Homo sapiens: one gene and its partners. The protein of the gene in region 2 interacts with the protein of the main gene of each other region in a biochemical or structural test. Each region holds a gene or a part of one and is shown on either strand. Other genes may lie near its edges. The genes, in order: SASS6, CEP135 and CPAP.

Region 1 (7,113 bases), on a different chromosome or scaffold from region 2:
TTAGCTTAGTTCTTGATTATAACAAGCGTTAGTAAATTTGAAAAAAGAATCCTTCAGGATGCTAATTATAATTAAAGATAGTAATTGGCCAGGCACGGTGGCTCACGCCTGTAATCCCAGCACTTTGGGCGGCCGAAGAGGGCGGATCATGAGGTCAGAAGTTCGAGACTAGTCTGACCAACATGGTGAAACCCTGTCTTAACTAAAAATACAAAAATTAGCCAGGTATGGTGGCATGTGCCTGTAATCCCAGCTACTCAGGAGGCTGAGGAAGGAGAATCTCTTGAACCTGGGAGGCAGAGGTTGCAGTGAGCCAAGATTGCACCACTGCACTCCAGCCTGGGTGATGGAGTGAGCCTCTATCTCAAAAAAAAAAAAAAAAAAAAAGGCACCAAAACAAAACAAAGTTAATTAAAATTTTTAAAAAATTTCTTTTCCTTTCTTCTGTATAGTTTAAAATTCCAGCAAGGTCTTCTGGTAGACTTCTTAGCTTTCCCACAAAAATTTATAGATCTCCTTCAGCAATGTACTCAAGAACATGCCAAAGAAATTCCAAGGTAAGTTGCATGAGAATGCTACATTATTAAATTTAATTCAAGACAGACTCTTCTTTGAAACACAAGTTGATGGCAAAATCTTTTCCGTTTATTATGACTATCCCTGTTTATTTTTAGAACTGGGGTTAGGCCTCCATTAAATCTCAGACTTTAAGGCATCTTGATTAAAATCAGAAATATTTCTTAATTTTCATGTCTTGACAAAGGCACTAAAGTCATCCGAAATATTTAGCAGCATCAAATATTTGGTTTTATAATGATATTGGAAAAAGGGAAGACTAAGATTGTATGTGTGTATGGTGCTAACGCCTGATTCTTTTACTGTAAAGTTCACCATCAACCTTTTATTTATTGGTTTTATCAGTTGACGATTGTTGTTGAATCAGTTATTTCATTAGGAAGAACAAAATGATGCTTCTGTATAATTTTTTCTATATTAAGTATAATTCTTCTATAAAGAAGAACTTTTCCTCAGCAATTAGGGCTATTTGATTACTCAGAAAATTCATAAAGGATAAATGCTTAATTCTTGCATTTAAATTGTCAATTTTTAGAGTAAAGAGCTGGTAGTCTACTTTTGTGGCACTCAGTGAATTTTTGTTTCTAGTTTTTGCTTTTTCTCTCATTTGTTTCTCATGAACTCATGGACTTTTATGTAGTCACTGTGTTTCAGTCAATCTTTTCTTTTTTTTGCCCAATTTATCTTTTACCATTGGGAGTCCTCAATGTGCTCCCTTTCCTGAGCTTTCTTAAGTAGAGAAGCTTCTGATTCAGTGAGAGATTTTCACTATCTCTTAAGTGTGTTATAATGTAACATTTTCTTTTCAAAGGTTTTTGCTACAGTTAGTTTCTCCAGCAGCTATTTTGGATAACTCACCTGCATTTTTAAATGTGGTAGAGACAAATCCTTTTAAGCATCTTACACACCTCTCACTAAAACTTTTACCTGGAAATGATGTGGAGATAAAGAAATTTCTCGCAGGCTGTTTGAAATGTAGCAAGGTAAGATTTAAATTTAAGTTATTCTTTTAACAAAATAAGTATCAATGGTCTTTGATAAATTATTGAAGAGATACATTGCCATAAGTTTTTGTTTTCTAAATAAAGTTTTATGAAATATAACGAATTTATTTTACTGTTTCTTATTTAGTCAAGGTATAGTCGGGATGGATCTGGACCAGGAATTGAGAAGCTTAGGTCTCAGGGTTTTTACCAATCGTGTGATTTTGGACAGGTCACTTAAACTCTTCTGTCATGGTTTCATCAACTGGTAGACATGTATGGAAATAGCTACCCTATCTAGCCCATCTTTTTTTTTTTTTTTTTTTTTGAGACGGAGTCTCGCTCTGTCGCCCAGGCTGGAGTGCAGTGGCGGGATCTCGGCTCACTGCAAGCTCCGCCTCCCGGGTTCACGCCATTCTCCTGCCTCAGCCTCCCAACTAGCTGGGACTACAGGCGCCCGCCACTACGCCCGGCTAATTTTTTGTATTTTTAGTAGAGACGGGGTTTCACCGTTTTAGCCAGGATGGTCTCAATCTCCTGACCTCGTGATCCGCCCGCCTCGGCCTCCCAAAGTGCTGGGACTACAGGCGTGAGCCACCGCGCCCGGCCCTAGCCCATCTTTAATGAGATAAGATATATGGAAATGTCTTGAAAATTATAAAGTGCTATATGGCACAAGGAAACAACATAGGGATGCTGCTTGAGTTTTTAGAGTCTTTCTAGTCAAATGCTATAGATCAGTGCATGTCAAACTTTAAATTATCTGGGGATCTTGTTAAAATGATTTAGATTTGAGATGGAGCCTAAGAATCTGCATTTCTAACAGGCTTCCAGGATGATGCTGATGCTATACTTTGAGTAGCATGGCTATAGATGATTACATTGTAAACTGTGTAATTTTATTATTTTTATGAATAGGAAGAAAAATTATCATTGATGCAATCACTAGATGATGCTACTAAGCAACTGGACTTTACACGAAAGGTAATTCAAATTTCATTTTGTCTTTGTAAGTCATCCAGACATTGGCACTGAATTGCTTCCTTGACTCAGTTCCAAGCTTTTATGTATTTTCTTTCAAAGCATGCTTCCGTTGAATTTCCATTCCTCTTTGCCACCCTTCAACTACCACTTAATTATCTTAATTTGATACTTTCTCTTGTACATACTTGATTTTACACAAACATTTCTGTATCCCCAATATATAACATGTTCCCTCGAGTCTTCATTAAATAAGATATGTATGTTTCTGTCATATATTAGTTCTCCACTCCCCACTTGTTCGCCTCATTCCTCTGGCCTAAATGGCTTTTCAGTTCCTATGCTCTAAACCTTTCCCTTTCTTTGCTATGTTTAGAATTAATTCCTCTGATAGGCTTAGCATCATTTCAGTCATAGCTACAACATTTCTGCCCTAGTTCATGAAATTGAAGGCCAGAGTATCTGTTTTAGCTTGTTCTTGCTTTGCTTTAAAGAACTATCTGAAGCTGGGTAATTTATAAAGAAAAGAGATTTAATTGGTTCATTGTTCTGTAGGCTGTACAAGCATGGCACCAACATCTGCTTGGCTTCTAGTGGGGACCTGAGGAAGTTTACAGTCATGGCTGAAGGCAAAGGGGAGCAGGAGTGTCACATGGTGAGGGTGGGAGGAAGGAGGTACCACATGCTTTTAAACATCCAGATCTCATATGAACTAACTGAATGAGAACTTGCTTAACACCAAGGGAATGGCACTAAACCATTCCCATGATCCAATCACCTACCACAGGCCCTGCCTCCTCTGTTGGGGATTACATTTGAACATGAGACTTGGAGGGGACAGACATCCTAACTATATCGGTATCTGATAATCTGCATGGCCTCATGCAGAAAATACCCCTGCACAATGTGGCCCACAGGGCCATGTTACTGGGTTTTATATGTAAGTGAACTATTCCTTATAATCGACTTGCTTCCCCTTACCCCTCTTTATTGGGTGGTAAAGAGCCAGATTTAATTAAAAGCTTTAATTAAAAGATAGTTAATCTTGACCTGTGGGCCGTTTTGGGTCTAAGATTGTTCTTATTCTAATGTTGATTTCCTAAAATTAAAAAATTTTGTGTAGGAAAAGGCTTTGAACATGTCCTGAAAAGCTATAATTTTGTTTTCTTTAATATCCTTGTAAATATTGCTATATTCTAATCAAAATTATTACATATTAAGGAGCCTATCTTAATATTTTGTGTTAAACTCTAATGTAGACATTAGCAGAAAAAAAACAAGAATTAGATAAGTTACGGAATGAATGGGCGTCACATACAGCAGCCTTGACAAACAAGCATTCTCAGGAACTGACAAATGAAAAGGAAAAAGCCTTGCAGGTAAGAACATTAAAGGAAACTGAAAAAATATCTTTTATTGCTGTTAGTCATTTTGTTAATTTTAAAAGTAATATATGCTTGCTTTAAATTTTCCAAACGTTACAGAAGTATATAAAATAAAAATAAAAATCCTCTCTTTCAAAGTCTTACTACCTAGAGATAATCTATAAACATTTTGATGTATTTTTTTCAGACTTTTCTCTACGTATATGTAAATAATATGTAATTTATAAATATTTGTTTATAAACTTATAACTCTGTAAATTATGTCATTTATATATGTACCCATATAATGGGTTTTTGGTTTTGTTCTATACTAATGGGGTCTTATTGGATATATTGATTGTAACTTTCTTCGCTTAATGTGATACCATTCTGTATCAGTTAAGATATTCCTTTTTAGTGACTGCAGAGTATTCATTTTTTGGGTTTAACTTAAATTATTTAACTACTTGCCTAAATGGTGGTCATTTAAATGCTTCGAAGTTTTGGTTATTTTAAGCAATACTGCAAGAAGCACTCTTAGTTTCTAGAAGTGAAACTGCAACATATCTGTATAAAATATTGATGGATACTGCAAATTTGCCACCCAAAAAGACTAAACCAAATGGAATCCCAAAGATAAGGTAGTGTATAAGGATACTTATTTCCCCATATTCTTGACATTGTTTTTAACCTTCTTAATTCTTCTTTTTTTTTTTTGAGACAAAGTTTTGCTTTTGTTGCCCAGGCTGGAGTGCGGTGGCACAATCTCGGCTCACTGTAACCTCTGCCTCCCGGGTTCAAGCAATTCTCCTGCCTCAGCCTCCCAAGTAGCTGGGATTACAGGCATGTGCCACCATGCCCAGCTAATTTTGTATTTTTAGTAGAGATGGGGTTTCTCCATGTCGGTCAGGCTGGTCTTGAACTCCCAACCTTAGGTGATCTGCCTTGGCCTCCCAAAGTGCTGGGATTACAGGCATGAGCCACTGTGCCCTGCCACGTTCTTAATTCTTAATATATGCCACCTGATCTTAAGGTAGTACTAGTTTTATTTTATATTTCTTGTATTTTTTGTGAAGATAAGCATCTTTTAATACAACTTTTTATCATTTTTATTTCTTCTATGGATTATTTTTTATTTTCTTTTCATCCCTTTTTCTGTGTGGTTATTTTTTTTTTTTCACTGTGCCCTGCCACCTTCTTAATTCTTAATATTTGCCACCTGATCTTAGTACTAGTTTTAGTTTATATTTCTTATATGTTTTGTGAAGATAAGCATCTTTTAATATAACTTTTTATCATTTCATTTCTTCTGTGGATTATTTTTTATTGTCTTTTCATCCCTTTTTCTGTGTGGTTGTTTTTTTTTTCATTTTTTATTTTTAGATGGAGTCTCGCTCTGTCGCTCAGACTGGAGTGCAGTGGCACTATCTCGGCTCACTGCAACCTCTGTCTCCTGGGTTCAAGCAATTCTCCTGCCTCAGCCTCCTAAGTAATTGGGATTACAGGCGCATGCCACCACCATGCCTGGCTAATTTTAGTATTTTTAGTAGAGATGAGTTTAACCCTGTTGGTCAGGCTGGTCTTGAACTCCTGACCTCGTGGTCCACCCACCTTGGCCTCCCAAAGTGCTGGGATTACAGGCATGAGCCACCATGCCCAGCTGTGGTTGTTATTTTCTACTGCTTTGTAGTATGAATTCCTTTTCTACCTTTCGTACTATAGCTTCTTTTTTTTTTTTTTTGAGACAGAATTTCGCTCTTGTTGCCCAGGCTGGAGTGCAATGGCATGATTTGGCTCATTGCAACCTTTGCCTCCCAGGTTCAAGCAATTCTCCTACCTCAGCCTCCCAAGTAGCTGGAATTACACATGTGCCACCATGCCCGGCTAAATTTTGTATTTTTAGTGAAGACGGGGTTTCACCATGTTGGCCAGGATGGTCTCGAACTCCTGACCTTAGGTGATCTGCCCTCCTCAGCCTCCCAAAGTGCTAGGATTACAGGCGTGAGCCACTGTGCCCAGCCTTATAGCTTCTTTAATATTACATTTTATTGTTGTTTTTATGTACTTTACTAGATGCTTGCTCTTAAGAGTACAGCTTGATGATTTTTTTAAATGTGTAACTTTCACCCAAATTAAGATAAAGAAATTGGACCACCCCTCTAGGTTCCCTTGTATGGCTTCCTAGTCCTAACAGTAGTCCATAGGAGGTTATCATACTTCTGACTTACATCATCATTCATTAGTTTTGCCAATTCTTGAACTTTGTGTAAATGGAATCATATATGTTTGCATATGTCTTTCTTCACTCAGCATAATATTTCTGAAATTCACCTATTTTCTATTGTTTCCTTTTATTGTTATATGAATCTGCCATAATTTATTTTCCTATTGGTAGGCATTTGAGTTGTTTCTGGTATTTTGCTATTATTAGTTAAACTGCTATTAACATTCTTGTACTTATCTTTTTGTGGACACATGCACTCATTTTTCTTGGATATTTATCTATTATTGGAATGGCTAGGTTGTAGTATATATAGGCATATGTTTAGCTTTGGCAGAAACTACCAGTTTCCCAAAGTAGGTAGGTATACCGGTTTACATTGCCATTCTATGGGTATGTAATACTATCTGATAATAATGAACACTTCTTCATATACATATTTATCACTTGAATATTCTCTTTTCAAGTGCCCATTCAAGTTGTTAGCATGTTTAATTTGCCTATTATTAGTATTATTATAGATTTGTAGGAATTTGTATATTCTAGACATGAGTCCTTTGTCAGATGTATGCATTGTGAATATTTTCATTGTCTATAGCTTGCCTTTTCACTTTTTATTGGTATAAATTAAGGATATACACCTTATCTATCATGTACATTATAAACATTTCTCCCAGCCTGTCATTTGCCAGCATCTTTTGCCGTATATAGTTTTTTTAATTTGAATGTCATCAAATCTGTCAGTCATTGCCTTTATGGCTTAAGATTTCATTTCACATTTGGAAAGTGTTTCCCACCCGAGGACTATGAAAAAATTCTCCTATATTCTAATATTTGTTTAATTTTCTTGTTATATTTAGCTTTTTAATCTACTTGGAATATAATTTTGTGGAGTATAATATAAGGTAGAATTTTTTTGACATATAGTCAGTCATTGTTCCCCAATGATTTAAAATACTACCTCTATTATTTTATTTCATTTTTATTT
Region 2 (6,997 bases):
TTTTCTTCAGGTAGGTAGCCTTCTGGAAAATTCAGATTTAAAGCCAATGCTTATGATATTCCTGTTACTGCATTAAAATAAATACTTCCTCATACAACTAAATGTAAAAGTTAAAATCCTAAAGCTTCTAGGAGAAAACAAAGATTTTTCCTAAGCCTGAAGTAGGCAGAGACTTCTCAGAGAGGCCTCTTTTAAAAGCACTAAACATAAAAGATAAATTTGATAAATTGGACTTCATCAAAATTTAAAATGTCTGCTCATCAAAATACTCAATTAAAATAGAGAAGGCAAACCAAAGAGTGGGAGAAAATATTCACAATATCTGACAAAGGATTTGTATAGGGAATATAAAAGGAATTCTTACAACTCAATAATAAGACAAACATCCCAATAAGAACATTAATTTGGGCTAAAACTGTAATTTAGTTGCGCTAAAGATTCGAACAGACACCTCGCATAGGTGTCTGAATGGGAATGATGATATGAAATGGTGCTCAACAGTAGTCAACATGGAAATACAAATTAAAACAACAAGGTACATTTTCTCCCAAACTAGAATGACTAAAATTACAAGGACCGACAATAGCAAATGTCGACAAAGATCTGGAGCAACTGGAATCTTCACACATTGCTGACAGGAATGTAAAATCACTTTGGAAAAAGTCTGGCAGTTTTTTTATAAAGTTAAACATACTTCTGGACTATAACCCTGTGATTTTATTCCCAGGTATTTATAGAAATAAAAAATATTCACAAAAATACTCTACAAGAATGTTCACAGCTTTACTCATAGTAGCCCCAAACTGGAAACAACCTAAACCCCCATCAACAGCAGAAGGGGTAAAGTATGATATATTTATACAGTGCAATACTAAGGGATAAAAGGAACTACTGATACACATCAACAGCATGGATGAATCTCAAAAACATTATTTGAGCAAAAGAAACCAGACAAATACTGTATGACTCCATTTACATGAAGTTGATGAACAAGTAAAATTAAAACTATGGGGCCAGAAATTAAAACAAGAGTTGTCTGGGGAGGTGAGGCGGGCTGCAGATTGCCCGTTAAGAGTTAAGACACAACTTTTTAGGGTAATGAAAATATTACATTGATTGGGGTAGTGGTTACACAAGTGTATACATTTAGAGAATTTACTTTTCAAATAGTACACTTAAACTCTATGCATTTCATCATGTAAATTTCACTTCAATTAAAAAAAAAGACACACATAAGTACCTCTGTTCAAGTTTTTATCTTTGTCTTTTTAAATATTTATGAATATATTCCTATCAATCTGCCCTAAAATGGAGTTATCCAAAGAGCATTTCTTTTTTTTTTTTATTTTAATTGTTACCTTTTTTAGAGACAGGGTCTTGCTATGTGGCCCAGGCTGGTCTCCAACTCCTGAGCTCAAGGTATTCTCCCACCTCTACCTCCCAAAGTGCTAGGTTTACAGGTGTGAGCCAATATGCTCAGCCCAAAGATCATTTCTTTAGAAACTCTGCTCTTTTCTAACCTTTGCTAACTAACTGTAGTCATGGTACTCGTATTTCTAAGCCAAATAAAAATTTTGTTTTACATCTGTTGTTCTTCACAATATATAAAAAATGCATTACATGCATGAGCATACATGTAAAAGTCGATCCTCACAGCTACCCTGTGAGGGAGAAAGACCAATGATATTATCCCTACTTAAACATGAGGAAAGGCTGCCTCAAGAAAGTAACTCTTCCAAAACCACGGGGCCACAAAGTAGGTGGGCAGTCATCAGAGACCAGGTCTCCTGAGTCTCTCCTTGGTCACTCCTTTCTGTATATCTTTCTCTTTGCTCTTGTTAACTTTTTTTGAATGGCTTCCTCATAGATTTCCTAGGTTCTTTCCACAAGAGACACCTAAGTGATGCAGGGTTTTTAGGGAAATTCCTGCAGACATCAGAAATACACCTGACAAATCCAGGTGTATTACTAGCAGGGTGTAAACTTACAGGCGGTGCACCACTCAAAACATTTCCCCTCTTTGCTACCAACTCCAGTTACCCAGAGATAATACCTCCTCACATCCTGCTTTGGAGGGGAGAGAATGAGAATGAATATGAATCAATAAATCATGGCCAGGGCCTCAATACACAGGACGGATTAAAATCCTCCCAGATAGAAACATGTTAGGCCGTCCCCACCCATGAACTGTTGTCTTTCCCCATAACCCCCATCCAAATATGGTGGCTATACTCTAAGTTTCTAGCAAAGCAACATAAAAGGTTAGGTTTGGGGGTCCCCCATACATATATGTGTAGAAGTATCCATCTACTTAACTCTGGGGGTTGGCGTCTCAAAACCAGTACATTTAATGCTGTATGTATGTGTGCACAGGGCTTAAGAAGATAAACAAGAAACCCCAAACGACAACAAAGAAACCCGTTAGCTGTGGTTATCTCAGAGTCCTTTCTTATTGAACTCAAAGTAGTAAAGGCTGGAAAGCAGTGGAGAGGCTTCAAAGGAGCTGGGCAAAGGTTAATTAAAGGCTGTCGTCCTACGCTTTGCGACATTTTTGTTACAAAGAGCATGGATGACTGCTACACTGAGAAGGCATTTTAATGTTTAAATCTATCCATTGGTCAACAGCAAGCCTGTCTGCACGGCCCACACAGACGCTCCTTGACGAGTCGGCCCAAGCTCTCCTCCACCCAATCTCCGGTTTGCAACTTTACCGTCGGGTGTTGACGGGAAGGGGGTGTGGGAGCGGGGTGGGTGGGAAGAGTCCCCGCGCCCCTCCCCGCCCGGTCTGACCCGGCCTGGCCTCACTTCCTCCCGCGGCCGCGCGGCCTCCCGGCAGTGCCCGAGCCCGGCCCGCGGGTACCGCCCAGAAGGCGAAGGCGCCACCACCGCCGCAGCTGGCCCTCTGGCTCCCACATCCGGACTCACCGGCAGCTCCAGCCGCCGTTGCCTCCGCCTCCAGCCGCATTGCCCTCAGGCCTCGAGTCCCCCACTAGCTCCTTCCGTCCAGGCACGGGCTCCGGCGCTAGAGCAGTTTGAAAATGGCGCGGAGGGACGATCGGGGCCGACACGGAGGAGGCGCCGCGGTTGCCCCGGTAACGGGAGCGGCGGACGATTAGCGGCTCGCGGCGGGGACGCGCTTGGCGACGATGGCGGAGCCCCAGTGCCCGGAAATGCAACGGCCCGGACAGCGCGAGGCCACGGCGCCCCCTGGAGGTCGGCGCCCGCGGCCAGCAAATGCCAAACCTCAGCTGGTGCCTGAGCTGGCATCCTCTTCCTCCTGTCGGCGGGAGGTGTGGATCACCTACTGCGTGCGGGGAACAAACGCCGCCCCAGTACCGGTCCCTGCAGCGGAGTAGCCTTCACCTGCAAGGTGAACGCCTGCTCACCACGTAATCCCCAAACGCAGATATCACGTTGTCTCTGCAACTTTCCCTGACAACCACCCAATGCAATTAATTATCCCACAATAGTATCTCCCGCAGGCTCTCTGTAGAACCATAGAATTCATCCATCAAAATACAATCATTTGTTGATCCGTCTCTCTCTGCCGCCCCCAAATGTGAATTCCTTGAGTCAGAGACTATTCTACTCAGCAAAACATTTGTGAGTGGAATTAAATTGAAATAAACCGTTATAGTCCACTCACAGATGGAAAACACATAGTAAAATCCTAGAATTCCATTTCTCCCCTGAAAATTTCCCAGACAGTCAGAGGGAGTTTCATTCTTTCCTGTTTACTTTTCTCCCAAATAGGCCTTCTGAGGCAGCAGAATAGGGAAGGAAGTCAGAAGACTGACCAGCTCATACCTATGGAATGCCTATCATACATACACTTAAAATTATGGCAAGCTCACGCAGGCGCACTAAGAGAGAAAAAACAAGAAAACAGATATGACAATTATAGGAAATCCCCTCCCTAGAGTTAAAGAAGTGTAGGAAGTGGGTATAAAAGAACAAAGGCTATATTAATCCAGGGCTGACACCACTTGAAGATAAGCCCGTTCCTCTCTCTGGTATATTCTTTGCTTAATAAATCTTGTGGGGTGGTTATTTGTGTGTCTCATCCAATTCTTTGTTCATAACACCAAGAACCTGGAACTCCCAACTTCCAATCTGGTAACATATTTTGGTGAGCCAGCCAGGAGGTAAGCCCAGAAGAACTGGGACTTTTTATTTTCTTTCTTTTTTGCTTCAGCTCTTTCACTTTGGTTTAAAGCTGCCTTCTGCTGGCACGGATTGGGCAGTTAAGAACGAAAAAGGCACTGGCCGCTTGAAGACTCCCATTGTTGCGGGAAAGCAGAGGACCAGAAAGACCAATGGGTGGAGCAGGAGGATTTTATTAAGGTGTGCACTGGCTCCGTGGATTTGCATCCAAAAAGCTGAGCCCTGAACAAAGACAGAGCTTGGCTTATATAGGCTAAATTAAAAAAGCAGAACCAAGGCAGTAAATCACACAGTGACAGGTTTTGTAATCTATAGCATAACTGCTGAAATTTGCATAACTTTTGGCTTTGCTTAGCTGGTGGCCTTGCAGCTGCGTCAAAAGAAAAACAGGAACCTACAAATCTTTCTAAACATAGGCAAAAATAATCATAATTAATGGTCTAAGGAAAGAGAAACAGTAAAGGAATTTGTTTTTCTTAACCATTGCTCAGGGGTGTTTGGAGCTCATTCCTGGCTTCTTAGACTAGGTCACCATGACCTTCCTATAGCCTTGCTTGTTACTATCCTTAGAGTGAGTAAATGCAGTACAAAACTTTCTTTAAATTCCTGCCTCAACGTGACAGGATAACCTGATTGGGGAATGGAACAGATGGGTCCCACGGGGTACAAGATCAATCCCTGCAACAGTGAGGTGCATGTTTGTGTGGCTATAATTATTACATTATTTGCTGCTTGTTTTTTTGTTTTTGTTTTTGTTTTTGTTTTTGTTTTTGTTTTGAGATGGAGTCTTGCTCTGTCACCCAGGCTGGAGTGCAGTGGCATGATCTCGGCTCACTGCAACCTTCACCTCCCGGGATCAAGCAATTCTCCTGCCTCAGCCTCCTGAGTAGCTGGGATTACAGGCACCCACCACCATGCCCGGCTAATTTTTGTATTTTTAGTAGAGACAGAGTTTCACCATGTTGGCCAGGGTGGTCTCGAACTCCTGACCTCAGGTGATCCGCCCACCTCGGCCTCCCGAAGTCCTGGTATTACAGGCATGAGCCACCATGCCCAGCCAGCCACCGTGCCCAGCCTTGCTGCTTGTTTTATTTTTTTTTTCTTTTCTTCATTTGTGTTGGGATATCATGTTTTGACCAATTAGAGATCTCCCCCCAACCCAAAGGGCCAGGACAACAGGTAACTGACTGTGGGGAGCCCAAGGATTAGCATCAGCCTGAAGATTAGGGCCAACCACCTGGATAATGAGAGTACCCTGCTTCTTCTGTGAGGGATCAGATCTAGATTGTTTTAGTTTAGTACATCTGGTGCTAAAAGAAAACTCCTGGTGGAGACTCTCGGATCATTGCATAAATTGCACAGTGGATCCATGGGGAAATTACTGTGCCTGGTTTATCTCATATAGTCAGAGGGCACTCTACTATCTTATTGAGAGGCCAGTCTCTAATAACAAATTTAAACTAGGCAGTCTGCAATTCCTTGCCCTTCAAACTAGAGTTACTACAATAATTAAGGAAACCATTTGGGAAGAAACTCTTTTGGCCAGCTACAGGGATACTAGAAGCCAAAGGTTACACCCAGGAACTAAAGGGAAACTTATCATAGGTCACCAATTATGGCAGGATCCTTCTTCAAATGGCACTGGTGCCCACTATGGCTAGAGACGTCTGGCACTCAGAGGACAGGTCCATTTGGGGGATGCCCAAATGGACCAAAATTACAGTCCAGATCCTTCAATAGGGGACACCCTTAAGGGAGACTCTAGATGTAAACTCATGAACCTATGAGACTCCTTTCATGCGCGTCCATGTGAAGAGACCACCAAACAGGTTTTGTGTGAGCAATAAGGCTGTTTATTTCACCTGGGTGCAGGCAGGCTGAGTCTGAAAAGAGAGTCAGCGAAAGGAGATAGGGGTGGGGCAGTTTTATAGGATTTGGGTAGGTAAAGGAAAATTACAGTCAAAGGGGTTATTCTGTGGTGGGCAGGAGTGGGGGTCGCAAGGTGCTCAGTGGGGGAGCTTTTTGAGCCAGGATGAGCCAGGAAAAGGACTTTCACAAGGTAATGTCATCACTTAAGACAAGGACTGGCCATTTTCACTTCTTTTGTGGTGGAATGTCATCAGTTAAGGCGGGGCAGGGTATTTTCACTTCTTTTGTGATTCTTCAGTTACTTTGGGCCATCTGGGCATATATGTGCAAGTCACAGGGGATTCAATGGCTTGGCTTGGGCTCAGAGGCCTGACAACTCCCTTCTTCTTTTCCACAGATTAGTGTTGGGAAACATTCCTTCAGTCCTATCTGACTCCCCTCTTGGCTGCATCTTCAATCATTGGAATCAATTTGACCCTGAAAACCTGTGAAAGAAATGCCTAATATTTTATTGTAACACCTTTTGGCCTCAATTTCAGCTAGGGAGTCAAGAGCAATGGCCAGTCAATGGAAGTCTCAATTATGACACCATCCTCCAATTAGAACTATTTTGTAAGAGACAAGGCAAATGGTCAGAAATACCATATGTGCAAGCCTTCATGGCCCTATACCAAAAGCCTACCATTTTCAAAGCTCCCAGCACTTCTCCACAGAAAGAAACTCCTAAAACTGAGCCGAATACTGTAGATAACCCCCTCTTGCAAGGGGTACATATGTGTCAGGGTGAACAATAGCCACCTTCCTATAATCCAGGTCCAAGTGCACTTGAAGCTTCAAAAGAAGGACAAGAGTCACGGGTCCTAGCGATCCCTCCCCATACTAGCTTAGGAACACCATATTCAATGACACCACCTGTCCTGCTACCTCTCAGAGAGGTGGCAGGAACTGAGGGTCCCATCAGGGT
Region 3 (7,113 bases), on a different chromosome or scaffold from region 2:
AGACTTGTGGGCTATCCTCTCTGCTGCTGATGCCCCTCTCTCTATCCTCAGTCGATGGTTTTATGGTAACATCAAGCTGTTCCTCAGAGTCAGTGCTACTGTCACTATTTGGAACACCTTCATCGTCACGTGCATTCCATTCAGTCTGATTTTCAGAAGTGCTCTTTTGGACGGCTTTCCTGATTTTACAAGGCTGTTCCCTCAATTCATCAGCTGAGGACAATGAATGAAGTTGTTTGGGTGCGACTTCACACTCACTCTCCTTCTCACGTGCAGTGTGGTCCAAATCCTCACTGCGGTTACAATGACTAATGGGATCTGCCGGATTTGTCTTCTGTGGCACAGCTTTGACAGGGGTGGAAGACATCCGGTGACCTTTGCAGATCTGTTGATCCCTTTCTAAGATTTTCAGTACAAATGAGGAATTACTAGAAAATGATATTTCATCAGCAGCTTGTTCTAAAAACAAAAATTCATCTAATTCCAAATTTTCCTTTTCCTTTTCTCGTTCCCAAGTCTCTAACTTTTTCTGAAGAGAAACGTCAAGAGAAGATTCAGACTCTTTCATGGTCTCCCTTATGGGGCTCTTAGCAGCCAGCCGGCTGGCCGGCCCTGTTGAAAGAGGAAGTCTGTCTTTACCTTGTGTCTTATTCCACCCTGTGCAGCCAGTATCGCAAGGTTTTGGACACTCAGTTACATTTTCTTTATTATTAGATGTGACTTTGTTTTCAAATTTGATCTGGTCTCTAAACTGCCCATCACATTTCTTCCCCGTCTGTATTTTCAATCCTGACGGAGAAAGACTTTTCCTGTTACTACACTTCAGCATTTTCGGCTTCTGACTGAGGGTGACAGAACCACTCTTGGTTCTAGCTTTACTGTCCTTTTTAAGGATAGGGTTGTCTGCACACAGCTCTTTATTTTTAAGAGCGGTTTTCCGCTGGAGTTGCTGTCTATCCATTTTAAACAGCGGCTGGTCCTCGGAAGTGCTCTGGTTAGTCACTAGTTTACTTTCTTTGCCTTTTTGAAACTTAGATTTGGCATTAGTAAATCTAGCTAAACCTTCTCCTCGTTTTAAAAATGGTTGTTTTGGTTTTGCTTTGATTGGCAATGGTCCTTCTGCTTCCTAAAATAAAAGAATAATATTTGAATTAATTTTGGTATATCCAAGTGATCTCAAAGTTATTTTTAAGGCAAATTATAGATAAATCTCTAAAGCCTTAGAATGATTTAATCAGAAGAGCACAATTGCTGACCTTCAGCTGTTTTTGCTTCAGTTCTTGCTCTTCCAACTGAATTTGTTCTTCTAAGTAATCTTCAAAGGTCTGTTTCCTTTCTCCAATAGCAGCTTTAATGGGCCTAATTAGAAACAGAAAGTTATTTAACATGCAAATCATAATGTGTGAATATTTTACACTTAGTGTGCCTGGTATAGAAACCCTTGACAACATGGAGAACTAACTTTTCCCAAAATCAGTGCCTCCCTTTGAGAACCTAACAAAAGCCACAATCCCTCTCCACACCTTAAAATAAAGAAACATACAACACTCTTCACATGACTTTGGAGTCCTAAGAACCCTTCTGAAGTCCATCTATCGACCACAGATTAACACATGGAGTAACATATTCATCAAATAACTTTAAAATGTATTTCAAAAATAGATCACTAAATATGCATTTTTTTAATTAAGAAAGGCCCTTAATGTGAGAACAATAATCAGAAAAGTCATTTTGTCCATATTATATTAAAAATTTTGAAATAAATTTTTAAAATAATCAACTTACTTAAAATATAAAATACTTAATCTTTGCCATATTTTAAAATTCTGTAACTAAACTGATAATGCAATTATAATTGATAAGTGACACCAAATGGGAGATGTCAATACTTAATTTTTCCCTTCTCCAAAAATAGGATTTAACTATTTGAGAGAAAATTGATTTTATCCAGATGTTTCTCTTAAGTGAAAAAGCTTCGAGAATACAATGTCAAGGCAGCTTGACATATCTCCTCAACCTCTTTTGTTGTTGACAGTACATAATAGGTTGTATCTTTAACCTTAAAAGCATAGTCAAGCAAAAACCAGAAAAATATAGATCTTTCAAACAAAGAAAGTGTTCAATAATAAAGGCTAGCTATTGTACTAAATAGTCACATTTCTCACTTTCAACACGAACAATACCTTTCTTCAATATTAGCCACTTCTGAGGAATCATCATGTTTTTGTAAGTTCTTATCATTTGCTTCCTGAATCTGTTCTGTCACTTTCTCCCAACATAAGATACTTTCTCCTGAGATAAAAATTAAGAACAATTTAGCTCAAGAAAAGCATATTAATGTCTTAAAACATGAGAATTCTACAAGTTACTATGCTAAAACATTTTTTTAATTAAAAGTAATGTATATCACAGATTTTACAACACTCAAGGAATTCTTTAATATAATTAAGAGAAACTACAAAACTCCAATTAAGACACTTGAGGCCGGGTGTGGTGGCTCACACCTGTAATCCCAGCACTTTGGGAGGCCAAGGCGGGAGAATCACTTGAGGCCAGGAATTCGAGCCCAGCCTGGCCAACGTGGCGAAACCCCGTCTCTACAAAAAAAAAAAAAAAAAAAAAAAAAAAAATTAGCCAGGCGTGGTGGCACATGCCTGTAATCCCAGCTACCTGGGAGGCTGAGAGCAAGCAGAGGTTGCAGTAAGCCAAGATGGTGCCACTGGACTCCAACCTAAGTGACAGAGGAAGACCCTGTCTCAAAAATAAAATAAAATAAAATAAAGACACTTGACATTCTTCAAAAGGTTAATGTCATGAGGAAAAAAGTGTGGGGTTTTCTAGAGATTAAAAAGGCTAAAGAGTTGTAAGAATCAAACGTAATACATGAACTTGACTGGATATGCATTAATTTGATTGGATCCTTTAAAAAAAAAGCACCTTTAAAAGATATTTTGGGATAACTGGGGGAATCCCAAAATGGACTTGAATATTAAGGAATTATCATTAATTTCTTTAGATACAATAATAGCACTGTGGTTATACAGATGAATGTCCTAATTTTTGCTTGATGCATACTGAAATATTTGGAATGAAGTAACAAGATACCTGCATATTATTTTCAGTGAAATGGTTCAGCAAATTATACACATATAGAAGTAAAGATAAGGATATACATGTAAAAGATATATATACACATACATACACTGACAAAGTAAATACAGCAAAATATTAACTGCTCAATCTAGGTGGTGGGTATATCAGTAATAACTGCAGTGGTCTTTCAACTTTTCTAGATGTTTGAAATTTTCCAAAATAAAAGGCTATGGAAACATGTTGTATAAAAAAGAAGAAAAACATATTTGAGCTTTCCACACCGATGAATTAACTCTAAATTAGGAACAAGGCATTATGGTTGGGTGCAGTAGCTCAGATCTGCAATCCCAGTACTTTGGGAGGCCAAGGCAGGCAGATCACTTGAGGCCAGGAGTTTGAGACTAGCCTGGCCAACATGTTGAAACCCCATCTCTACTAAAAATACACAAAATTATCTGGGCATGGTGGCACATACCTGTAATCCCAGCTACTTGGGAGGCTGAGACACAAGAATCACTTGAACCCGAGAGGCAGAGGTTGCAGTGAGCTGAGATTGTGCCACTGCTCTCCAGCCTGGGTGACAGAGCGAGACTGTCTCAAAAAAAAAAAACACGCCACAGGGGACAAAAAAAAATAACCATACAGAAAGAGCTGGCAGGGTAGCACGTGCCTATAGTCCCAGCTACCTGAGAGGCTGATGGGGGAAGATTACTTGTGCCCAGGAGATTGAGTCCAGCCTGAGCAACACGGCAACACTCCATCTCTGAAAAAATAATTTTTAAAGAAAAAACATGGAAAGGCTTCATCTTAGGACAACTTAGTAACACTATAAGCACAGAAGAGAGAAACATAAGTAGCTCACCTGTAGGATGGTTACGGTTTTCTTCTTTTAAATTATTTTTTTCCACAGGTGCTTCTTGATACTGTGCCTCAGAAAATAAATTAGGAGACGCACGTTTTGAAGTTAAGACAAAATCTCCATGAGCAGTTCTACAGAAGTTGCTTTGCTCATGGGATAAAATGTTGGACGGGTATGTTTCTTCCTGGGTTGGGTCCGGGTAGACATATGATGGGAAGCAGCATGTGGCTCTCTCTCCAGTGGTGGTATTTCCTGGAGACCTGTGCTTCTGGCTCTGATCATCAGGCAGTAAACTCAAACCTTACAATTAAGAAATGCAACAAAGCTGATGACTTCCTTCAACATTTTCTCTTTTATCCCCAGTAGTGACCCCCACCCCACAAAGACTTCTCCACAGTGACAACAGTATTTTTTCCCTTTATTAGGAAATGGTGTTTAACAAAACCATTGATTGTTTGAGACAGTCTCGCTCTGTCGCCAAGGCTGAAGTGCAGTGGTGCGATCTCAGCTCACTGCAACCTCCACCTCTTGGGTTCAAGTGATTCTCGTGCCTCAGCCTCCTGAGTAGCTGGGATTACAGGCGTGTGCCACCACGCCCAGCTAATTTTTTATATTTTTAGAACAGATAGGGTTTCACCATGTTGGCCAGGCTGGTCTTGAACTCCGGACCTCAGGTGATCTGCCGGCCTTGGCCTCCCAAAGTACTGGGATTACAGGTGTGAGCCACTATGTCTAGCCTGTTTAAATTTCTAATGCAGTAAGTTATTGGTAAATACAGCCCATATAACAAAAGTTCTTTGGGGCTCTCAAATATTTAAGAATCCTAAGGGATCCTGAGACCAAAATATTTGAAAACTACTGCTCCAAAGCAAACTGCTCCATGACTGCATGAGGCTAGTTCTTATGTAAATAACTTTGAAATCAGCTTCCCTGTCATTCTGTCATAGTGCGGTTCTACCTTTAAAAGTATCACAGCTGTTATTTAAGTGATCTTGATTATTCTTTGTATGTATTCCATAAAGAAACCCTAAGCCATTCAACTATTTTAAGGCACACAAATGTTTTCTATATTCTCTAAGATAAACATCCAAATTCCCTAAACCATTGTTTATGTGCTACAATTTCTCATGACCACACCCCACCTGACCCCTGCACCCAGCCTCACTCACTTGCCAAGTCTTTTTTTCCTTGTATTCTCAATGCCCAGCATAATCTCTGAGCAGAACAGGTGCTTTCCTGGGTCAGTAAAGTATATTTCTTAAAAGAAGCAAACACATGGCTCCAACCTCAGTTTTTTTCAAACTATGGGACACAATCTATAATAATTTTATTATCGGATGTAGCATTTTTTAAAATGATATAGAACTAGAATAAACAAGACAGAAAATGTCCTCACTACATGCCAGGAACACCAATAAGGACTGATGACATGAAATTGCTTTGTCATTATGAGTCACGATTTTAAACATTTTTACTACTACAGAGTGTGGTCAAGAAACTTTCAAACCACTGCTCCAGGTCACATTTCCAGTTTTCTTTCCTGATTGGCACGTGACGCTTTCCGTTAACTGATGGGTCACACAACAGAATACTGTCATCTCCTACCACAGAAAATATCTTTGGTATGGTTCTTCAGCTGAACAGAGTGGCTCCTACATGTATTTACCTTCATGACACCCAACAGTTTTCATTCATCAGGCAGGGGTTGGATACCAGCAGCAGCTCTAGGCCAAATCTGACTTTTCTTCTATTGGACCTTTTTTGGGGGGACAGGGTCTCACTCTGTTGCCCGGCTGGAATGCAGTGGTGCCATTATAGCTCACTGCTGCAGCCTCAAATTCCTGGGCTCAAGCAATCCTCCCACCTCAGTCTCCAGAGTAGCTAGGACTGCAGGCATGGACCACCACACCCAGCTCATTTTTTTTTTTTTTTTAATGAATAAACATCAATGCCTTAAAGCAGGGCATGCGCACACCAGAATGCGGCAGCTCCTTCTTGTTCCAGTTGTATTACAACTCTACCATTTCACATTTATCGGGCTAGCCTTTAAAGAAACTGGAGTTCACAACACATGATACAGGAACGATAGAAATAACGTGTCAAACAACTACAGGTAAGAAATGTGCATTATACTGAGGCCCTGTGTAGGCAAAGCATACCTGGAAGTGTGCACTGCCCAGACACCATGGTGAGCAGCTTCTCTTGTTCTTCCATGAGTCTCTGTAGTTGCTCCAACTGTTGCCTCTTCAATTGTTCCTGCTTCTTCTGTTGTACTTCTTTCAGCTTTTTAAATACAAAATTAACTTTATTAAATCAACTTTACAATTCTTCATGGACACCTCGTTCCCTTAATTCCTCCCATCTCCCTCCTCCTATCTTTCCTGGTAAGAAGTTTTAGACAGGGACCCCTAGGTAACTAAATCAGCCACCGAAAATCTAAAACTCATATCCTTACGAAGGAAATCTTATCAACTATCTCAACTAAGAAACCGAAACAGTCATATAAATCCTTTGATTGTTAAAATAGGATGGGCATCAGTACATCATCCAATTTTTTCCCCTAATACTTGATCAACCATTTCTTACTTTTCGCCAAATGAGGTAACAACTTAAAGTTATTATAAGTGCTAATTAAACACACTTAAATGTTTCACATTAGACAAAGGGCAAAATCTGGTATTCTGAGGATTTCAGAGTGAAGGGGAAAAAACAAGAAGACCTAGAACAAATGACTTTATTACATAAACAGAAACCTGCAATGACATAAATTCACAGTAGGCCAAATCCTATTGTACCTGTTCAAGTTTTTTAAAAAGTGGGTCTTTATAAGCCCCTTCTTTGAATTCACTCGCAAGATCTGGGATGAAGTCATTTTTGTTTTCTTCCTGGTGTCCAGGAGCACTGTGACATGCCGCTACCTGTGGTCCCTTTTTAATGCAAGGAAAGGCTGTATGGGTTTCAGATTTATCTGACTGTGGTTTGTAAGGGTTGTTTGACTCCAACTTCTGTTCTTCAAGAAGTGAATCTTCTTCATTTATAAAGCTGAAGCTATCAGAAAAATGTGTGCCTTTAATAGGAAAGCTGGTAGAAATGTCCACAGCTGCTCGCTTCTCTTTGTCTGCTTCCAAAATAGGAAATCCACGATTTAATATGACCCCAGC

What was found.
Region 1: the proteins of CEP135 (region 2) and SASS6 form a complex in vitro, tested with the Homo sapiens proteins (one study listed by IntAct).
Region 3: the proteins of CEP135 (region 2) and CPAP form a complex in vitro, tested with the Homo sapiens proteins (one study listed by IntAct).

What each region holds. Positions count from the first base shown.
Region 1 is NC_000001.11:100,115,824-100,122,936, reverse strand, and holds part of SASS6 (spindle assembly abnormal protein 6 homolog), read left to right. Parts: intron 1-452; coding exon 453-557; intron 558-1,387; coding exon 1,388-1,559; intron 1,560-2,477; coding exon 2,478-2,543; intron 2,544-3,799; coding exon 3,800-3,919; intron 3,920-7,113.
Region 2 is NC_000004.12:55,944,988-55,951,984, reverse strand, and holds the start of CEP135 (centrosomal protein of 135 kDa), read right to left. Parts: upstream 3,041-6,997; 5' UTR 2,926-3,040; intron 1-2,925. UniProt on the Homo sapiens protein: Centrosomal microtubule-binding protein involved in centriole biogenesis. Acts as a scaffolding protein during early centriole biogenesis.
Region 3 is NC_000013.11:24,905,835-24,912,947, forward strand, and holds part of CPAP (centrosomal P4.1-associated protein), read right to left. Parts: coding exon 6,748-7,113; intron 6,236-6,747; coding exon 6,112-6,235; intron 4,253-6,111; coding exon 3,956-4,252; intron 2,293-3,955; coding exon 2,184-2,292; intron 1,360-2,183; coding exon 1,257-1,359; intron 1,127-1,256; coding exon 1-1,126. UniProt on the Homo sapiens protein: Plays an important role in cell division and centrosome function by participating in centriole duplication. Inhibits microtubule nucleation from the centrosome. Involved in the regulation of slow processive growth of centriolar microtubules.